2 separate regions of the Homo sapiens genome follow, and region 1 is linked to region 2. The links come from fine-mapping of genetic effects on gene expression. A gene starts in region 2. The other region holds a variant in brackets. All regions are shown on one strand. Distances are from middle to middle.

Region 1 (10,937 bases), 170 kb after region 2:
CTGAAGAGGAGCTTGCTTCCAACTGCACTATCTTCTAGGCAGTGAGACCAGCATCTTCACATTTTACAATAGAAGGGACGGCAGCTAATTTCAATGCATCATGTAACTCCCAAGAGGTGTCACTTTACCTGGATGCTTAAAGGCAACTTCCCTGTCTCTCTCGGATGGGGCTGACAACATGGAATCTCCCCCAGCAAAGAATGTGTGCAGGAGTGACAGACAGCTTGAGGAAACACCTGTTTCACTTGCCTCACCCAAGCCACAGTTATCTATCACTCAGCAGTTCAAAGCTGAACTGGCCAGGACAGAGCACCAAATTGCTGGCAGAGGCCGGGCTCCAGTCAAGTGCTGGCATCTCATCCAAACAGGTTGAAATTAGGTTTCAAAACTACCTGTGAGAAAGAAAGATGAGGTGGAAAGTCGCTGATGTGAGCAAAAATACTGCAGTAATAGCTGGTTGGGGAAGAGAGCGGGGGGGAACTGAGCTGCAAAAACACTTAAAACATGCTACTCTGAAAGCCTGTGGCTCCCTTGTCTCCCCCAACTCTCTCTTTTATTAACTTAGCTTCTTTTATGAGTACTTTAATAAAACGAACTCTTTTTTACCCTGTGCAAGGAAGATCCATAAATGCTCCTACGTTGAAAACAAAAACAAAAAGCAAAAAACTTACATTTCCCAGGATATCCGAAAGAAAGGAATGGGTAGGGGAGGGAAGAGCAATAAATGGTTACACTAAAGGCTCCTGTTATATGGAGTCATACATAAGGTGGGCACGAGGATGCCTTCTGAAAATCCAGCTGACGCCATGTGAAGGAAGGCATACTTTTTCAAGACTTGGGAGGAAGATAATCCTTTATGACTCCTCATTTAACTTCTTTATATCTAGTGATTTATCATCTAATCCCTGAGCTTTACTTGGGGTCACAAGAGTCCTCTTTTACTCTGTGTGTACAGTGAGGGCTGAAGGGTGAAAGGGAGCCTCATCTACAAGCCCAGGACATGTTCTGAACCGACTGGCCACCCGGAGGCCTTAAGACCCCTTGGGAGAGCAAGGAAAGATTTTTTTCTCTCTGACATCCCACATTGAATCCACCTGCAAATCCTGTTGGTTCTACTTTCAAGATACATTCAATCCACTTTTGGCATCTCCTCTGTTATCACCTTGTATATGGTCCAAACTGCCCTCATCTGTCACCTATATTACTACAATAACTTCTACCTGGTCTCCTTGCTCCCACCTTTGTCCCCACTTGTTCTGCATAAGACAGCCTAAGGTAGTGGGAGAGGTCCTCCACTCCACGCCACCACACCCGGCCTCCTTGTTTTCTTGATTATCCTGTTTAAACTTGCAATGACCCCCCACTGCCTTCACTATCCACATTCCCTACTTTATGTTTCTCTATAGCACTTATCATGGTCCCATACACTATATATTTTACTCATTCTATATCTGCCAACCTGTATGTTCCATCAGGGCAGGAGTTTTGTTTCTTTCATGCCTGCATCCTCAGTGTCTAAAACACTGCCTGGTACATAATAGGTGTTCAATAAATATTTGTTGAATGAATATTATGCTCATTCTGAGGCCAAAATTCTTTAAAATTGGGGATAAAGGCTGTGTCAGCATTGGAGCTGTTGTGCCAAACCCCTATTAACCTCAATAGGGAAGGTGTTAGGGTCAAGAGGCCAAAGAAAAGAACCAGGAACAGCAAGCAAGACATGAGGTTTTATTAATGGATTACATAGACAGGAGAGATTCCAGTGGTGGTGAGTTGGACAAGAGATTTGCCTTACATACAGAGACAGATCAGTGGCAGCAGCTGGACAAAATGTCTGCCTTACCGCCTTACCTACAGTCAACAAAGCCCAGTGGTGGTGGGCTAGGCAGGAAAACCCCAACCATTTGCAAAGAGCATGCAGTTTATATAGCATTTCACTTAATATCCTGCCCTTAACAACCTCCACCTGGCAATCTTCATCCAACCCAAAACTCAGGGCTTCAATCCTCTATACAGCCCATGTTCCACAGGATGGGCTGGGGTGTGTACGTAGGGATGGGGCTCAGATGTTCCTCATTGACAAGGAATGAATCTCCAGGTTGGCCACGCCCAAATTCCCTAGCTTGGAACACGAATTCAGGTGTATCTGCTATATAGGCTATGCTTAAATTATTGCTGTCAGGTGCATCTACTGTACGGGGCGCAACTTCCCAGTGGGCCACAGGACACGGCTCCTCCAGGGATGTGGGTGTGTAATGGTCAGAGCAGGATAGATTTGGAGAGCAAAGTCAGGAATGCCAGTCAACCGCAGGCCTAGACATTGAAAAACTGGTCTCTAAGTTTGAAAGGAGAATATATATATATATATATATATATATATATATATAAAACTATCAACCACAGCACAGTCATTGATGCTTACTTAGTGAGAGGGCAGCTCTCAGTGGTTAGGAAGAACCCCCCTCTCCTCCCCCTTAACCAGGTGGCCTCATTCTGGAACAAAAGGCATCCAAACATAAAGAAACAGCACTGCCACTCTGCCTTCTCAGCTCTTATCTTTACTGCTCTGTTCTTGTCATCATATTGGTCCTTAGAGTAGGCCACGCCAAGTGCAATCAGGGTGGAATTAGTTGCTACAGGATATCTGTAGCAACTTCACAGAAGTTCCTCAGAAGGAGATTTCATGGCACAAATTCCCAGTGGCTGAAGTGGAAGAGCTCAGCAGTCAAGGGCTTTGTATTAATTACCCTGCCCTGGCTTCCTTCCCTTAATGCTCAGGTGGCCTGGTTAAAATGAATCCCATCCTCATTCTTCCATTTAAGCCCAATGATAGTCATAGTTCTAGCAAGGAGGGTGCAGTAGGGACGTCCACACCCTGAACCTGCCCTGGATTAGGACAATACACTGGCTCCTCTCTGCTATTCTTAGAATTGGAATCAAAGTGTGGAATTGTCCACTCTCTTTCCATGTCAACACAAGACCTCAATCTCTGATCCAGCCTGACTTTCAGAAGTCCACAGTAGACACAGGAGTGATATGGAACTGACCCTTCAGGGCAGGGTTTAAAACTAAGTGTTATCTCAAAAACAGTGTCCAGGGTTAGGTATGGCAACCGAAGAGAAGCTCCAGCTGTAAATGGTCTGGAGGTGACAACTGGGTAAAAGAAATCCCATAGCAAACAGCAAGCAGGTTTCGAAGGGAGGGAAGGCAGAAACCTAGACCCTGGGTTTTAGAGGCCTCTGCATCCCTCTGTTTTGGAGAGTTGGGGTTCAGGACCTGTTAAAGCAACTTAGAGTCTTCAGACAGGAATAGACAACTCTTGGTTAAGTTCAGGACAGATTCAATGGGAGAGATAGAATTTTCATTACTTTAAAAACAGGCAAAAGAGTAAGTGTCTGTAAATCTAACTCAGCCAGAATCTATCTCAATATCCTTTTTTATTTTTTAAAGGTAGACAAATTTATTATATTTGGAGCATAACCAACTTGTTTCTTATTCTTAGCTCTGCCTCCCTGCCAGGCCAGACATACTCACGGACACCAAAGCCATGGGCACCAGCCCTGATTGTAGTGGATATGAGTTATGAGTTAGAATGAATGCATTTGGAGACTGGAGCTAACAGAATTTGTAAACTATGCAAATCATTTCTTATCCTTCTTACTTTAAAAAAGGACTATTCTGCTACTCTCAGCAGATTTCAGCCTATTCACTGAGTACTTCAGAGTTTACAAAATACTCTCATATACATCATCTCATCTTGTCCCTGTCCCTGCAGGAAGCAATGGGGTGAAAAAAAAGGGGGGGATTACTTCAGATCAGTCTCAAAACATCAAAACATGACTTAGCTGGTCCTAGTCCCACTCTGTCATGGTTTGGTTTTTAGCTCAAATAAACACATTCACTGATTTACAAAACTAGGTAATAAAACATTCATCCCTACCTTCTTTTTTTTTTTTTTGAGACAGTCTTGCTCGGTCGCCCAGGCTGAAGTGCAGTGGTGTGATCTCAGCTCACCGCAACTTCTACCCCTCAGGTTCAAGCGAAACTCCTGCCTTAGCCTCCTGAGTAGCTGGGATTACAGGCACCTGCCACCACACCCAGCTTTTTTTTTTTTTTTTGTATTTTTAGTAGAGACAGGGTTTTGCCATGTTGGCTGGGCTGGTCTCTAACTCCTGACCTCAGGTGATCCACCTTATTGGCTTCCCAAAGTGCCGGGATTACAGGCATGAGCCACCGCACCTGGCTGATTCATCCCAGCCTTCTGACCATAGGATAGAACTCTTTCTTAACTAGCGGATTCCTGGGGGCAGGAGGTGGGAAGAGAGTGTGACAAGTACAGCCTGTTCTCTCCTGAAAACTCAATTTGTCTTCTTTTCCCCTCCCTGTGAACTCTTAGTTGATACTGAGCCCGTACTGGTATATTCTTATCTTTCCCTTTTACGCATCAGATAGAAGCTAATGAAGGGTTCTTCTGATTGAATTTTGTGCTTATAGTTCCCCAGGTGAGATTATAAGAAAGGAAAAATATGGGGAGGTTGAACTAATACAACCTCAGGTGCATGTAGCACAATTTGATGGGATCTTAAAGGCCTTTCAGACTTTTAGTCTACAATCCCAAAGTGGTCTCTCTAATTCCTACCCCCTCCTTCTTTCTTGCCCCACACCAAGACTTCCTATAACCCTCCCCACTCACTGCCACACCTAACAGGAGGAAGTGACTCAAATCTCCCCAGGACCCCCAGCTTGTAGGCACCGATGTGGCATCTCCTTTCCTAAGGTCCTCTCCAGGTTTATCGGGCAGACACAGGCTTCCTAACAGCTCTAGCCACCACACAGTCGCCTCAGCACTCCACCTTTCCTGCACCAGTGACCGTTGTCAAGGTCCTCAGCGCAGAAATCAACTAGGAAGGCTGCCTCTCTGTGAGGTGCGGGCACACATGGTGGAACACCAGCATCTGTGCCAGAGCCTGTCTCCCCGGAGGGAGGTTAAGGTCTGCAGCAGTCAGGAGTCTGCCTCCCATTTACTGCCATTCTTTCTTAGCTGAAGGTGCTGAGTGCTTCTTGTCCTTCCCATGATTCTCAGAGCCCCTTTTAAATCATCTCTCTGAACTCGAGCATAGTCCATGGGACTGGGTGGAGGAAAAACACTACACACCACTACTAGATTGCCCATGTCCCTTAACTCCAACCCCTGGTTCTAAAACAGCTTTCTTCTTACTGGCCTCCTCCTTTCTCATCAAATCACTCATAGAAACAGCTGCCTGAGGAGCTGCCAGCTCCACACACCCATCAGGGTGACAGCTTGCTGCCAGGCATTCTCAGAGGTTCCAGCAGTGGCTCACACCCTTCAAACTGCAAAGTGTTCTTTCCTCTCTCAGATGATCGACAGGTCTGATAAACACTTGGTTCAGTTAGGTGACTGAAAAAGAGGGCTCCAGATGAGCAGAACCTCCTCACCCCTATACCTCACCGATGGGTCATAAAGCAATGGACTTTCAGATATTAGCAACAGATCTC[G/A]CTCACCTGTGGTTTTCAGAGCTTTGGTTAATAACCTGAGTTACCCTGGCCTCCAGGCTTGTCTCTTTCCCCAAGAATCGACCCAGGGCTACTTAAGGCAGAGAGATCCATTTCCTGGAATGAGCTGCTCTGAACCAAGACAAGTTCATGGTCTCTGAGTCCTCATTTGTGGCCTGCTGTCTTGATAACAGCTCTCTTGTCAGTCCTCCATAAGCTCTGGTCCAGCCTCCCCGTTGCAGGACATTTTTTCATCTTCAGAAGATTCTGAGACTTTAGGAATGAATCATTGCTGGTATGCAAAGTTACATAAGAAAAGCTAGGGACAAACTAGGCAAGTAAAGAATTCTAGTTTTTCCAAAATGGAAATTTTAGAAAAATATAAAAAATAATCTTATCAAAGCATGTGCTTCCTCTGGCAAAGCATACCTCTCCTATCCACAAGGAGCCTTGGGTGCAGGGGAAGATGAAATAATGATATTGCTCATTAGAGACAAAGAGGAAACTAGATGGGTCTACAGGGAGGGCTCCTTCCTAGTGTTCCTTCAGAGAGGGATGCTTTCCTACTCTGTTGTGGCTTATCATGTAGATTCATTCTTGCATAGAAAGCAAATAAGAGAATTGAATGCCATCATTTCTGTGAGGAAGAAAAAAGAAATCAACATATCAACTGTTGTCCTATTTGCATCCCTTCCTTCTGCTTCCTTATAAAATTAGCAGCAAAATGACATTCCTTATTCCTCCATGCAAGTCGTACAACTGACAGCCTTAGCATCCCAAATAAAGCTCCTCTCCTTAAGTCCAATATTGAAGTCACTTAAGAACTCTCTGCCCTTGATTTTGATCCTTTCTCCTGTCAAAGTGAGGGTGACATTAACAAGTGTGCACAGGAGGGGGCTTTGTGCCAATTAACAGTTTCTCATTAGCTTAATTAGGGGACACATGTTTTTAATCACAGCTAAGAAAGTGGAATGATTGAAGAATTGATTCTGAGCTTTTGAAAGCATCCCTGTCAGTGCATGGAATTTAATTCTGCAGATGTTGCTTTAAAAGAGACAGTGGTAGAAAGAAATAGCTTTAAATGACATGGCCTCACTGAGCATAATAAGAGAATAGGAATCTGAACCAGATAAACAGAGTGTTTCCACTTCGGATCTAAGACAATCTTTTTCAGGCTATCTGCAGAATCGAGGGTCTTGCCCTCTTTGTTATATTATGTGAGATAGCCAAGTGGGACAATTTTCTTTTCTTTTCCACTAACCCTTTATCCCTAGATTCCGAGTAAACAGACCTGATGGTTGTAGAGATGTTCAGATAATGTGGATAGTTTAGATGCAGATTTCGGGGGGTTGCTGATGGTTGTTCTAGCTGAAACGGCTGTTAAATTTGGACTTCATGGAGTATTTGAGAAGTCTAAATTTGTGAGACCTGTTTACATCAGGAAATGGTTTGATTTATGGTCTTGCATGCTTGTAACCTGAAGCTGGGTAACTGTCACAGTCCGTATATAACCCAAAGGGCCACTCATTCAGATCATGCAAATCTAAAGGTGATTGTTAAGCACTAAAAATTACATTGATTTAAATGTCTATATTGTTTTGGGCTCTACACAATACAGCAAGGCCATGACCCATTCCATTTAAAACCTTAGTAGGCTAATGTTTCACTAATTATGAGATTTTAATACAGTATGCACACAGATTTGTTCTTTGTAGAATGCAATCTTTACTGATATATCCCTTTTGCAATTTATCTTTTATTTTTCTTGATTGCAAAAAGCAATAAACTTTAATTGCAAAAAACTGAAAAATACTGTAAAACACAAAGAAGAAAAAAGTAGTACATAATTCCACCTACGCAGATATAATCACTATTTATATTTTAATGTATAGGCTTTTTTACTATGTAAATTTCCTTTTTTTTTTTTTTTGAGAGAGAGGGTATGCACCGTGTTGCCCAGGCTGGAATACAGTGGCACCATCATGGCTCACTGCAGCCTCAACCTCCTGGGCTCAGGTGATCCTCCCACCTCAGCCTCCTGGGTAGCTGGGACTACAGGCATGTGCCACCACACCTGGCTAATTTTTTGTATTTTTTTGTAGAGACAGGGTTTCACCATGTTGCCGAGGCTGGCCTCAATCTCCTGAGCTCAAGAGATCTGTCTGCCTTGGCCCCAAAGTGCTAAGATTACAGGCATGAGCCACCAGGCCCGGCCACACTATGCATATTTTCTAATAAAATGGGATGATACTGTATTTCTGGTTTTACAACAGCTGTTTTACTTACTATATCATTATGACCTCCCCAGATCATTAAATATTCTTGTACAACATAATTGTTAATGACTGCGTAGTATTCTGGCTCATGAATTTGTCATATTTATTATAGAACATTACAAATATTCCCATTTTTGGTATTATAAGCAATGATGAAGTGGTCATGCTTGAATATAAATCTTTTCAAGCATCCTTGATCATCTCCTTTGAATAAATTTCTAGAGGTGAAATTGCAGAGTCAGAGATTATGTACATTTTTAAGACATTTAAACATATTGTCAAGTTTCTCTCCAGAAGTTATAATCTACCAGTTTATATTCCCATAACTAACAATATAGGATAGTGATCTTTTTTACTAAAGTAAAAACAATAAATAAGTATAATCTCTAAAAGTAAAGTAAAAAAATTATATCATTATTTTTATTACAATTTTGACTACCAGTGAAATCAGATATTATCTCTTATAAGTTATAAGTTATATTTCTTTTTGTGCATTGTCAAATCATGTATTTCTCTCATTTTGCTCCTGGGATATTCACCTTTTGTTTTTATTATTATTTTTATTTTACCTGGGTTCCAGAAAAGGAAGAATCACCTCTTTATTTTGGTTCATTTGTGAGAGTTGTCATATATGAAACCATTGTCACATGTATTTAAAAATATATCTTGTTCCTAGCTTGGTACTTGCTTTTTTTCCCCCTCTAATTATGCATTTTGTTGTTGTTGTTGTTGTTATTTATATAAAATGTTAATGTTAGGTAAGTTGAATCAGTTATTCTGTTATGGTTCTTTTTTACTAGAATGTTTGAAAAAAATTCCCCCTTCTGAGATTTTTATATTCACCAGTATTTTCTATTTTCATTTTTTACTTTTAAAAATTCATTTATAATTTAGTTTTATATACTGCATAGGTAGCTATTTTGTTTTTTCTTTGCAAACTGCCAACTGATCTAATATGTTTATGGAATTATTCAGCATTTCCCTAAATGTGTTCCATGGTACACTACTGCTTCAGGATTCTGAAAAATAAAATAAGTTCTGGCAGATATACATATGTTTGAGAAATGCTGGATAATCTAGTTCCTTATTAAGATTCACAGAGCATAGTTCCATTTTAAGGTTTCAAGAAGTCCTGCTGTACAGATACTTATTTTATCTTGCTTTACCTAGAATTACGATTTAACCATGTAGTTCTTTTTCAAACAGCATCTGTTAGCATAAAAAAAAAACTCCTAATATTCTGTAGACTAGCCAGTGAGTATCTAATTTGAAAGATCAAAAAAAAAAATGTTTACCAAACATTATTGTTGGAGTGTCTGAAAAGGCTCAATATGGATATAGTATCCTCTGGCCTACTTGGGTTCTGAATAAATTGAGAAATAAAAATCAGTAGGGCAGATGGGTCAAAATATCACGTTTGTTATTGTTAATAGAGGAGTTAGAAAATGTAGTTTAGTGGGAGAGCCAAGTAGACTCTGTGAACTGAACCCCTAAATTAATGTAGCTGCTCAGTCCCAGGCAGTTTCTCTCTCCAGGGCTGCCTTCTCAGGTAAGACTTACAGACTGGAGACTCAGAGGGAATCTCTGGCTTCCATACTTAGTACTCAAGAAAAAAAAAGGAGTGTGCTGGGTCTAGCAAGCTTGGTTTATTCTTTCCAAATGTGCTAATCAGCCAAGTTACTCCCTCCTCCCTTGGCTGAATGAATGAGAGGCCAAGAGTGGTTACAGACAATCTGTCCATAAAGAATCCCAGGAATGGAAAAATGACATTCCTCTCTCACATTGCTCAGGCTTATTTCTCTATTAGGTTTAATCATTAAGAGTAATGGGTGTGGCTATCTCCCCAGGGGAGAACTGCAATCTATCAAGAGAGTTCTATGTTTGCCTTCTTAAGGCTCCTTTCCCCAACACTGGTTGCTGCTCTTTTGGGTATCCTTTCTGAGGGGAGTTGGGAGTTTGCTTCCAGAAGACTCTAAGATGGATCAAAACAGCACATTAATCAAATCAATTTCAAGGCTCTCCTACTGGAGTTGAAAACTCCTTATTCTATTTCTCATCCTAAATTATGTCTACTTACATTGTCCAATATACAGTATCAGAGATTCTGCCATGAGATTAAATATGACATAAAAGATGCTCCAATAGTAAGACAAATAAAAGGCTTCAATAATAAAATACCAACAACATTGAGATGGCCCAAATTTGATTGTAAACTTTCACCAATGTTCAAATTTCCAAAGAGTTAGATTCCCTTGCAAATGAAAATCCAAAGATATTGAAGTCTAAAATAATCTTCCATTGATCTTTCTATTCCCATGTCATTATCATACTGCTTACGTATTAAATTTTATAATATATTTGGATATCAAATAGTGTAAACCTCCTTTACTCGTCTTCAAAAATAACTTAGCTTCTGGGAGGCCGAGGTGGGCAGATCACGAGGTCGGGAGATCCAGACCATCCTGGCTAACACAGTGAAACCCCGTCTCTACTAAAAATACAAAAAATTAGCCAGGCGTGGTGGCGGGCACCTGTAGTCCCAGCTACTCAGGAGGCTGAAGCAGGAGAATGGGTGTGAACCCGGGAGGCAGAGCTTGCAGTGAGCAGAGATCGTGCCACTGCACTCTAGCCTGGGCGAAAGTGTGAGACTCCGTCTAAAAAAATAAATAAATAAATAAAAATAAAAAAAATTACTCAGCTTCATTTCTATTGGCTCTTCTAGAATAACATTAGAATTATTTTACCTAGACAAAAAGTACACTTTTGATCAGAACTGTATTCATTTCATAAATTAATTTGGGAAGGATGGACAATATTAGATCTTTTTATACATAAACATGGATCAGCTCTCAGTGGAGAAATGTTCAACTACCATCAGATGATCTGGTACATCAATACAAACAAATGTGTTTATCACAATATATCATTCCCAGGGCTAGTTTTGTTTGGTTTTAAGGATGGGTTAAGAGGTATAAAAGGAAGGCAGTCAGTGGGGATTGGCAGCTAGTAAAAGTTAAGTTTGCAGCAATGTAGAACCAGGATAGCAATACTTAGGTAAAAAGGCCTTAGCAGCATTAGACAAAAAATCAAATCACAGAGGTGACTGAATGGTCTGTCCCAATTATAAGGTTTTTTTGTTTTGTTTTG
Region 2 (10,937 bases):
CTGCATCTGTGAATAGCCACTGCATTCCAACCTGGGCAACAGAGCGAGACTGTCATTTGGGGTTTTCAAAAGAAGTACATAGTAAAATTAGGATTAGAAGTTTGGATTTTATTTTAAATGTCCTAAAAAAACTAGATGGCTTTCAGAAAGAAAGTGATAAGATATTATTTCAGGTTTCAGATGATCATCCTGGCTGCTATGTGGAACATATAAGCAAGGAACACCAGCCGGAGGCTGAGCAATTATCCAGGCAAGAAGTTATGGTGGCACTGGTTATGACGGCATTTATTTTTTTGTATAGAGGTAGAGATGGAAGAAAGAGGTCAAATTTGAAATATATAAGAGGACAGTTTTAAGAATTTCTAAGTATAGAATCACAACACATTGCTTTATACTTTAGATTTGCAAAATTAATATTTGAACTAAGTATTTTACTAATACCTAGTAAATACTTAGCACTAGACTCAACTGTCTCCTTCCAAAACCCCTCCAACCCATTCTAAATTTCTCTAAAAACTAAGTACCTATTACCAATAGCATAGAAATTAAGAGGCTCAATTCAACTATCAAATGAGCCTGTTTTCAAATTTTTATTATACCAGTTAGCAGTCCTGAGGTCTTTGGCAAGTTATTAAATTTCCTGAGCCTCAATTTTATCAACTGAAAATGGAGATAATAATAGGAACCACCTCACAATTGTTTTGGGGCCTAACTCACATAGTGTATATACATAGCCTGCCTGTAGACACATAACAAATTCTCAATACACATTAACTAGCATTCTTCTTAAAACTTCTTCCAGGTGGAAGTAGATGCCTTATCATTACAGTCTAATCTATAAGACACGTAAATGTCTTGCCGGACTTGCATATTCACAGAGCAACGTTGAAATTTTTAAATTGCCAAAAGCGTAGCTTTTATTTTTTTCATTTTTAATTGATGTATAAATAACACACATAAACTGCATGTATTCAAAATTTACAATTCAATTTTTTTGTATAAATATATAACTGTGAAACCATCACCATGATTGAGATGATGAACATGTTCACTGTCTCCAAAAGTTTCCTTTTGTGGCACCTCTCTGTCCCTCTCTGCAGCCCTGACACTAGCCCCTAGGCAACCACTGATCTTTCTGTCACTCTTGATTGGTTTCCATGTCCTAGAATTTTATGTAAATGAAGTCATACAGTTTGCACAGTTTTTGTTGTTCTGGCTTCATTCACACAGTCATGCATTCCTTTTAATTGCTGAGCAGTGTTCCATTGCATGGATGCGCTACAGTTTGTTTATAACCGCTGATGGACATTTGGGTTGTTCCTAGTTTTTTATTATTACAAACAAGGCTGCTATGAACATCCATGTATAAATCTTAGTGTCGTGTCTTAGTCTATGCTGCTGTTACAGAACACCTGAGAATGGGTAATTTATAAACAACAGAAATTCATTTCTCACAGTTCTCAAGGCTGAGAAGTCCAAGATAAAGACACCAGCATCTGGTGAAGGCTACTGTCTGTTTCCAAGCTGGAACCTTGAATGCTGTGTCTTCAGGAAGGGAGGAACGCTGTGTCCTCATGTGGAAGAAGGAGGAAGAGTAAAAAGAGGCTAACTTTCCTCTGTCAAGTCCTTTTGTAAGGGCATTAACCTATTCATGAGGCAGACCACTCATGAGCTAAACACCTCCCAAAAGACTCCCCCTCCCAACACTGTTGCATTGTAAATTAAGTTTCTGTGTTTCTTCTTTTTAGAGACAGTGTCTTACTCTGTCACCCAGGCTTGGGTGCAGTGGCACATTCATAGCTCACTGCAGCCTCCAACTCTGGTGCTCAAGTGATCCTTCCACCTTATCCTCCTGAGTAGCTGGGACCACAAGCATGTGTCATCATGCCCAGCTACTTTTAAAATTGTTTTGTAGAAGTAAGGTCCTGCCATGCTGCCCGGGCTGGTCTTGAACTCCTGGCCTCAAGTGATCCTCTCACCTCCATCTCTAACACATGAATTTAGGGGAATACATTTACACCATAGCATGTGGACATATGCTTTCATTTCTCTTGGGTAAATGCCTAGAAGTTAAATAGCTGGATCTTATGGTAAATATATGATTAACTTTTTAAGTAAGTACCAAAATGATACAACTACATTTTCCAAAGTGGTTGTATCATTAAAGTGGTTGTATCATTTTACACTTCCACTAGCAATGTTTGAGAGTTCCACTTGTTGCAGTATTTGGTATGGCTAGTCTTTTTAATTTTAGCCATTCTAATAGGCGTATAGTGGTTTCTCATTGTGCTTTTAATTTGCAGTTTTGTAATGACTAATGATGTTAATTAAGCATCTTTTCATATGTTTACTTCTTTCTTCTCTGAACTCTTAAGATAATTAATTGCCTCTAAGAATTCATTAGCTTCTCTAGGCTATCATAAGTAAATAAAGAATTAAATAGATTATAAATAGGTAGGAAGGTAGGTAGGTAGGTGGATGGATGGATAGCTATATTGATAGGTAGGTAGGTAGGTAGATAGCTACCTAGCTAAATAGCTACCTAGCTAAATAGATAGATAGATAGATAGATAGATAGATAGATAGATGATAGATAGATAGATAGATAGATAGATAGATAGATAGATAGATAGATAGGAATTTGAGTTCCTGTCATGTGCCAGACATGATTTTAGGCAATGAGAATAGAGTGCTGAATGAGACAAAAATTCTGCCCTTATGGAATTTCTATTCACATGACAGAGACAGGCAATAAACAATGTAATAAAATGTTAAATATATATAATTACTATGAAAAAACCCTGAATAGTACACGATGACAGATAGTGAAGGGATGAAGCAGGGATGGAGCAACATTTTAACATGATCTCAGACTGTTACATTTATTACCTGCACCTCCTGTGAGGCCCTGAAGAGCACTGTACAGCACTGTTCTGCAGTACTATGCATCATGGGTTATGCTCAGTGCAGATTTGTTCATTATTTCTAGTCCTCTGTCGCCTTCACAAGGGTGGGGTGTCTTAGTCCATTTGGCTTGCTATAACAAAATACCATAAACTAGGTGGCTTATAAACAACAGACATTTATTTCTGACAGTACTGGAGCCTAGGGAGTCCATGAACAAAGTGCCAACAGATTTGGTGTCTGCTGACGCCCACTTTTTGGTTAATAGGTGGTGTCTTCTAGCTGTGTCTTCATGTGGTGAAAGGACCAGCTAACATTTTGGGGTCTCTTCTATAATGATGTTAATCCCTCATGACCTAATCATCTCCCAGTGGTCCCACTTTCTAACACCATCATTTTGGGAGTTAGGTTTCAACATACGAATTTTGGGAAAACACAAACATTTGACCATAGCAGTGGGGCTCCTCCCATCTGTCTTGTTGCCTGGTGAATCTCTCACATGTGGCTCAGGGTCAAGAACATGGTAGGCATTTGTTTAATAGATATCAATTAGATAAATTAATGGAGGAAGGGAGGAGTGAATGGTTCACAGTAGGAATGTAATGTGCAGGGAGAACTCAGTACCAGAACTGAGGCAAGAATTCAGACTTACCAAGGCCTCTTCTGCCAGCTTCCTCTTCTTGGCAGAATGCCTGTGCCACAGCTCATCCAGACAGTTGTGTCCATTCCTTTTGGTCCAGATGAGATGCAGGTGCTCTCCTGAGTATCTTTGTCTCCACCATAGAATTATTTGATTCTAGGTAACATCAATGGCTCCAAACCCTCTCCTTGTGGCCTTACTATGTGGCATTTACCACACTCTGCATCATGAGTGATGTGGGAATTATGCTTCTTGAGATGAGAAAGAAGCCCAGATCATCAACTTTGTGACCCTCTCGGCCCCATTTCAGTATCAGATACGTAGAAGCTCAGTAAATATTTATTGTATTAAATTGAATCCTAAGTCCCTCTAAATGATTCAAGATGTCAGTGAAATACCCTTCACCATTCCAAAAGGCAGAACAAGAGGAAACATCCTATGTTCCTGAAGCACGACTGATTAGACTTAAGAAAATTTTTTATTTTGGTCCTCTAAGTTGTTTAAACAAACTCATTCATATAATTTATATTTGGCAATTTTTGAAAACAGGAGACATTTTCACTCTGAAATAATTTTGAAGTCTTCCAAAGAAGAGACAGAGGCATGGATGAGATGACCTTTAAAAGTTGTTTGCAATGTGTTCAAGACGTGTCACTTGTTTATCTGTAGGTGACATCCTCAATGAGCTCAAGTTCCAAGCCCATAGAGCTGCATGGGCCACCAGAGTCCTCCGAGGCCCCTGGCAAGCTGCAGATCCTGCCTTCCTGTCTCAAAGTTTACAGCCACTGCAAAGGTCAGGAATTGTGGTCCTCACATGTAAAAGATGAGACAGCCAGGGAGCAGGCAAGTTTGCAACCCAGAGCTCTCTTGAGGAACACGGAGCAAAGCCACCAGCCAAGGCATGTTGTTTCCGTCATAATGTGTGCTGCACAGTGTGGAAGAGTTTTATGGTGGCCCTGGCCTAGAGCTGTAAAGTTTATTTCTGCACATTAGCTAGTCCATTGTCCCCTGCCCCCAATATCTCTTTCATCTTCTTTAGGTAGACTTGTCAGGATCCTCTTTTAAACACAAGCCAACTCGGGTGGGACAGAGTTTGTATATCAGCACCTTAATAAATGATCTTCTTTTAAATACAAACCAACTGGGGCAGGGCTGCTTGTATATCAGAACCTTAAAGAAGGCACTAATGTGGCACCCATGGCATCCTAGCCTGTCTTCCTCATTATATGCTGTACTATGAGAATCTAAATAATCTCAGTCTCTCCTGCCTGTGCACTGACTCTGAGGATGCAGTGAACTAACAATAGGTAGAATCATTGCAGACAAAAAGTAGCATCTTTGCATTGCATGGTGTGTTTGGGGAAAATGAAGAATTGTATCTGTGTTCACATTTTTACTTCTACAAAAAGCTGTGTTTCTCCCCAGGCCATGATCCCTGAATCCAAAGAAAAATATTTTAATGCAATTGGGAAGTAAGGAGGAGAGAAGAAAAAATGTGGTGCAATATTCTCATCCAGAAGATGGGGATAAAATATCATCATCTTTATGGGTATTTTGATGATTAAATTGTAAGATCCACATAAAGAGCTCAACACAGAAACTGGTACCTGGAAAGTGATCAATAAATGTTACATAGAATTATTATCTGCTATAACTGTTATGCCCAACTTTCTGGGAAGTTCACTGGACATGGAGGGAGGGAGAGGGAGATGAAAGGGTAGGAATAAAAATAATACAAGTGAGAACACATTTCTTGCTGAGAGGCAAGGTAATGTAGCAGAGAAAGTGCTAATGTTGAGTGCTAGACGAGCCTGATATGTTGTGGGAATGAAAGGCAGGTTAAGAGGGAACACTCAATACATGTTGGTTCATTTTTCTTACTTCTATCTTTCACTTAACTGATTTGTTCTCAATAGGAAATACTTTTTGTCTGAAATTACTTCACAATTCTTCCATAACTAGGTTCAAATCCACAACTATTGATTTCTTCTCTCTCTTAAGAGACAGGGCCTCATTCTTTCTCCCAGGTTGGAATGTAGTGGCACAACCCTAGCCTTGAACTCTTCGGCTCAAGTGATCCTCTCAACTCAGCCTCTCAAGTATCTGGGACTAAAGGTACATGCCCACTAGGCTGAGCTAATTTTTTAAATTCTGTTTTTATTTATTTATTTCCACTTTATTCTCCACTTGAGGAGAGGAGAGGGAAAAGGAGAGAGTAGAGATGGATGCTTACTTTGTTGCCCAGGCTGATCTCGAACTCCTGGCCTCAAGTGATCCTCCCGCCTCAGCCTCCCAAATAGATGGGATTACAGACATGAGCCACTGCCCCTGGCCCCTGATTCTCTTTTAATTAGGACAATCCTGGTTTCCAATGCCAGTTGTCCTGTTTACTAAGCATATGGTCTTGCGTATGTGACTTAACCACACAGGGGCTAAATACCTGATACATAAAATAGAGATGCTAACCCCTATACCAGAGGGTTATTAGGATGATCATATAAGATAACACATGGAGCGGGCTTATCATACAGTGGTACTCAATAAATGGTATCATTGGTAGATTTCCCTAAGCATAGCTGGGTTGCAGGAGTGACTGCTAAAACAATTACCTTGGCTAGCATTTATGGGATTTTTACTAGCAAAGAGGAAAAATAATTTGCTTCATCTAAAATCTTGACAAGTGAGCTATAAATGAAAGAAGATGTGTACACCCTAGAGAGGGAAGGCATTCAGCTTCTCTGTGGTCCTACAGAGGTTTGTCTCCATTCCTGAAAATCTTTTTCATTGCCTCTTTTGACATTCCTACCAACTGACTGTATAATACTACAGTTTCTCTCTGGCTTGCTTGTTGCTTCCTATTGAACTCTCTGGGGAATATCATGCCCCACATGCAGATATGTTGTACTCACTCTGGGTCATTAAGTCCTTCCCTCATCAATACCAATGGTGCACAGAAGCAGCTCATGGCAGGTGTTTACTTCTTCTGAGATGTGTTAACCTCAGGTCTTGTTGGACTGGTATTTACCGCAATGGCTCTATTTTGTAGATTAAAAAACCTGAAGCTCATGGGTTAGAAATGAGTAGGTCAAAGCTCTAATGAGGAAATAACATAGAAAGACAATGAATTTCAGGTTGTTCTCAAGCTGCAGTGGATTTTGTTGAGTTTTTTTTCAAGTTATAAAAGCAGTTTGTGTTTATTACTCTAAGACAAACAAAACAGTTCTTATAGGAGCTGGAAAGCAGGTGCCAACCACCAGACCCATAGTACCTGCCTTACTTGGAAGACTAATTACTATTGCAAAAACTACTCTTTATTGTGCTCTAGCTGAATAGAAGGGTTTAACATCTTAATCTCTTAGAATTAAAATCTGCATGATATTCTGGCCCTCATCAACCCGCAGCAAGAAGGCTCGTTAAAACCTGGGCAGAATAGGAGGTGAAGCAAGATGGTGTTAGAGAAGGCTTCACTGATCATTCCCCCAGACAAGGACACCAAGTTAACAGCTATCTACACAGAAAAAAAACACCTTCATAAGAACCAATAAACAGGCGAGCACTCATAGTACCTGGTTTTAACTTCTTAGTGCTGAAAAAGGTAGAAAGGTAGAAAGTGCTGAAAAAGGCACTGAAGAGGTAGAAAGAAACAGTCCTGAGTTGCTGACGCCACCCCTCTCCCACCCCTGGCAGCAGTGGCCTGGTGCAGAGAGCCTCTTTGGGTGCTGGGGCAGGGAGAACCCAGCAATTCTGAGGCATTGAACTCAGTGTTGTCCTGTTAGAGCAGAAAGGAGAACTGGGTCAAACTCAGCTGATGTCTGCCCACAGAGGGTGCATTTAAACCAGCCCTAAACAGAAGCCAGTCATGGATCCCAGCAGTCAGAACTTGTGCCTGCAAATCTCACCACAGAGGGCTACAGTGCTCTGTGACTCCAAGTAAACTTGAAAGGCAGTCTAAACCATAAGGACTGCAATTCTTAGACTAGTCCTAGTGTTGAATTAGGCCCAGAAGCAGTGGACTGGGGTGGGCGTGGTGGGGAGGTGGCGTGGATGCAACCTACTAAGGCACCAGCTGGGGCAGCCAAGGGAGTGCTGGCATCACCCTTCCCCTAACCCCAGGCTCCACAGTTCGTGGCTCCAAAAGAGACCCCCTTCTTCCACTTGAGGAGAGGAGAGGGAAAAGTGGATAGGACTTTGTCTTGCATCTTGGATACCAGCTCATCCACAACAGGATTGGACACCAGTCAAAGTTGTGAGGCCCCCATTCCAGGCCCTAGCTCCTAGACAACATTTCTTAACACACCCTGGGCCAGAAGGGAACCCACTCCCTTGAAAGAAAGGACCAAGTCCTGGGAGCATGCATCACCTGCTAACTGAAGAGCCCTAGGGCCCTAAATAACGAGCAGCAATACCCAGGTACTACATCAAGGGCCTTGGGTCAGCCTCTGAGACTTGCTGGCTTCAAGTGAAACTCAGCCCATTCCCAGCTGTAATGACTATGGGGCAAAACTCCTCCTGCTTGAGAAAAGCAGAGGCAGAAGTAAAGGGGACTTTGTCCTGCACCTTAGATACCAGCACAGCCACAGAGGGGCAAAGCATCAAACAGGCTCTTGGGATTCCTGATTCTAAGACTTGACTCTTGGACAGCATTTCTGGACCTGACTGAAGCCAGCAGGGAGCCCACTGTCCTAGAGGGTGAGTTCCAGGCCAGGCAGCATTCACCATGAGCTGACTGAAGTGCCCCTGGACCTTAAGGAAACATGGGTGGTAGTCCAGCAGTACTCCTTGTGGCCTGGGGTGGTGGTGGCTACAGGGAGAGGCTCCTTTGCCCTTAGAAAGGGGAGGGAAGAGTGGGAAGGACTGTGTCTTATGGTTTGAGTGCCAGCACAGCTGTAATACAGTAACACCAGATAGACCTCTAAGGTCTTTGACTCTAGTCCCTGACTCTTGGATAGCACCTCTGGACCCACCTGGGGCCTGGGGGACCTCACTATCCTGAAAAGAAGAATACAGGCCTGGTTGGCTTTACCACCTGATGATCGCAGAGCCCCAGGGCCTTTAGAGAACATAGGCAGTAGCCAGGGAATGGTTACAGCAGGCCTTGGGCGAGCCCCAGAGCTGTGTTGGATTCAGGTCTGACCCAGCCCAGTTGTATTGCTGGTGGTGCTTGTGTCACTCCACCCCCAGCTTTATGTGGCTCAGAACAGAGAGAACGATTTCATTTGTTTGGGAGAAAGTAAGGAAAGAGAACAAGAGTCTCTGCCCGGTAATCCAGAGAATTCTCCCAGATCTTGTCCAAGACCATCAAGTCAGTACCTCTATGAGTCTGCAAGAATCACAGCATTATTGGGCCTGGGGTGTCTCCTAAAGCAGATACAGCTTAGATCACAACACCCAAGTCTTTTCAAATATCTGGAAAGCCTTCCCAATAAGGATGGCTACAAATAAGCCCAGACAGTGAAGACTACAATAAACACCTAACTCTTCAATGCCCAGACACCAAAGAACATCTACTAGCGTCAACACCGTCCAGGAAAACATGACCTTACCAAATGAACTAAATAAGGCACCAGGGACCAATACTGGAGAAACAGAGATATGTGACCTTTCAAATAGAGAATTCAAAATAGCTGCATTGAAGTAACTCAAAGAAACTCAAGATCACACAGAGAAGGAGTTCAGAATTCTATCACATAAATGTAACAAAGAGATTGAAATAATTAAAGAATCAAGCAGAAATTCTGGAACTGAAAAATTCAGTTGGCATACTGAAGAATGCATCAGATTTTCCTTTAATAGCAGAATTTATCAAGCAGAAGAAAGAATTAGAGAGCGTGAAAACAGCCTATTTGAAAATACAGAGTAAGAGGAGACAAAATTAAAAAAATAAAAAACAATGCAGCTTGCCTACAGGATCTAGAAAATAATCTCAAGGGCAAATCTAAGACTTTTTGGTCTTAAAGAAGTGGTTGAGAAAGAGATATGGGTAGAATGTTTTTTCAAAGGAACAAGACCAGAGAACTTCCCAAACCTAGAGAAAGATATCAATATGCTAGTACAAGAAGGTTATAGAACACCAAGCAGATTTAACCCAAAAAAGTCTACCTCAAGGCATTTAATAATCAAACTCCCAAAAGTCAAGGATAAATAAAGGATCCTAAGAGCAGCCAGAGAAAAGAAACAAATAACATAAAATGGAGGTCCAATATGTCTGGCAGCAAACTTCAGGGGAAACTTTACAAACCAGGAGAGAGTGGCATGACATATTTAAAGTGCTGAAGGAAAACAAAAACAAAAACAAAAACAAAAATATTTCACCCTAGAATAGTATATCAGGCAGAAATAGCCTTCAAACATGAAGGAGAAATAAGTATTTTCTCAGACAAACAAGACCTGAGGGATTCCATGAATACCAGACCTTTCCTACCAGACGTGCTAAAGGGAGTAGTTCCATCAGAAAGAAAAAGACATTAATGAGCAATAAATAATCACCTGAAGGTACAAAACTCACTGGTAATAGTAAGTAAATGGAAAAACAAAGAATATCATAACACTGTAACCGTGGTGTGTAAACTACTTTCATCCTAAGTAAAAAGACTCAAAAATAACCAATAAATTATAATAACTAAAATAACTTTTCAAGACATCATCAGTACAATAAGATATAAATGGAAACAACCAAAAGTTAAAAAGTGAGGAGACAAAGTTAAAGCATAGAGTTTTATTAGTTTTCTTTTTGCTTGTTTGTTTGTTTATGCAAATAATGTTAAGTTGTTATTCGGTAAAATAATAGGTTATTTATAAGATAGCATTTTCAAGCCTCATGGTAACTTCAGACCAAAAAACATACAATGGACTCACAAAAAATAAAAAGCCGGGAACTACTTTATATGATCAGAGAAAATCACCTCTGCTAGAGGAAGATAGAAAGGAAAGAAAGAAGAAAGAGAAGACCAAAAAACAACCAGAAATCAAATAACAAAATGGCAGGAGTATGTCCTTACTTACCAGTAATAACATTGAATGTAAATAGACTAAACTCTCCCATCAAAAGACATAGACCGGCTGAATAGATTTAAAAAAAAAAACAAGACCCATTGATATGTTGCCTACAAGAAACACAGCCTACAAATACACACAAAGGCTTAAAACAAAGCAATAGAAAAAGAAACCCCATGCCAATGGAAACCAAAAAAGAGCAGAAGTCACTATATTATATCAGACAAAATAGATTTCAAGAAAAAACTATAAGAAGAGACAAATAAGGTCACTATATAATGATAAAGGGGTAAATTCAGCAAGAAGATATAACAATTTTAAATATATATGCACCCAACAGTGGATCACCCAGATATATAAAGGAAACATTATTAGAGCTAAAGAGAGAGCTAGGCCCAAA

Which allele goes with the higher level. Positions count from the first base shown, and alleles are read on the strand shown. Sizes are in standard deviations (SD) of each study's normalised expression.
In carriers of allele G in region 1, the expression in cerebral cortex of the gene that starts at base 4,922 in region 2 tends to be lower than with A alone (large effect, 1.8 SD a copy in GTEx).

Evidence for each region. PIP is the estimated chance that this variant, and not a neighbour inherited with it, causes the effect.
Region 1: its variant is fine-mapped to the expression of LINC01735 in cerebral cortex (GTEx, PIP above 0.99). The same link has a PIP of 0.9 or more in prefrontal cortex.

The regions. Positions count from the first base shown.
Region 1 is chr1:208,782,141-208,793,077 of GRCh38, forward strand. No RefSeq gene overlaps it. Among named protein-coding and RNA genes, the nearest start is that of LINC01717, 59 kb to the left of the region's middle. The variant G/A (reference allele first, on the strand shown) is at 5,518.
Region 2 is chr1:208,609,201-208,620,137 of GRCh38, forward strand. It overlaps LINC01735 (long intergenic non-protein coding RNA 1735), which reads right to left and starts at 4,922. Exons shown (of 2, transcript XR_001738430.2): 1 at 2,890-4,922. RefSeq lists enhancers at 3,504-3,673, 3,574-3,743.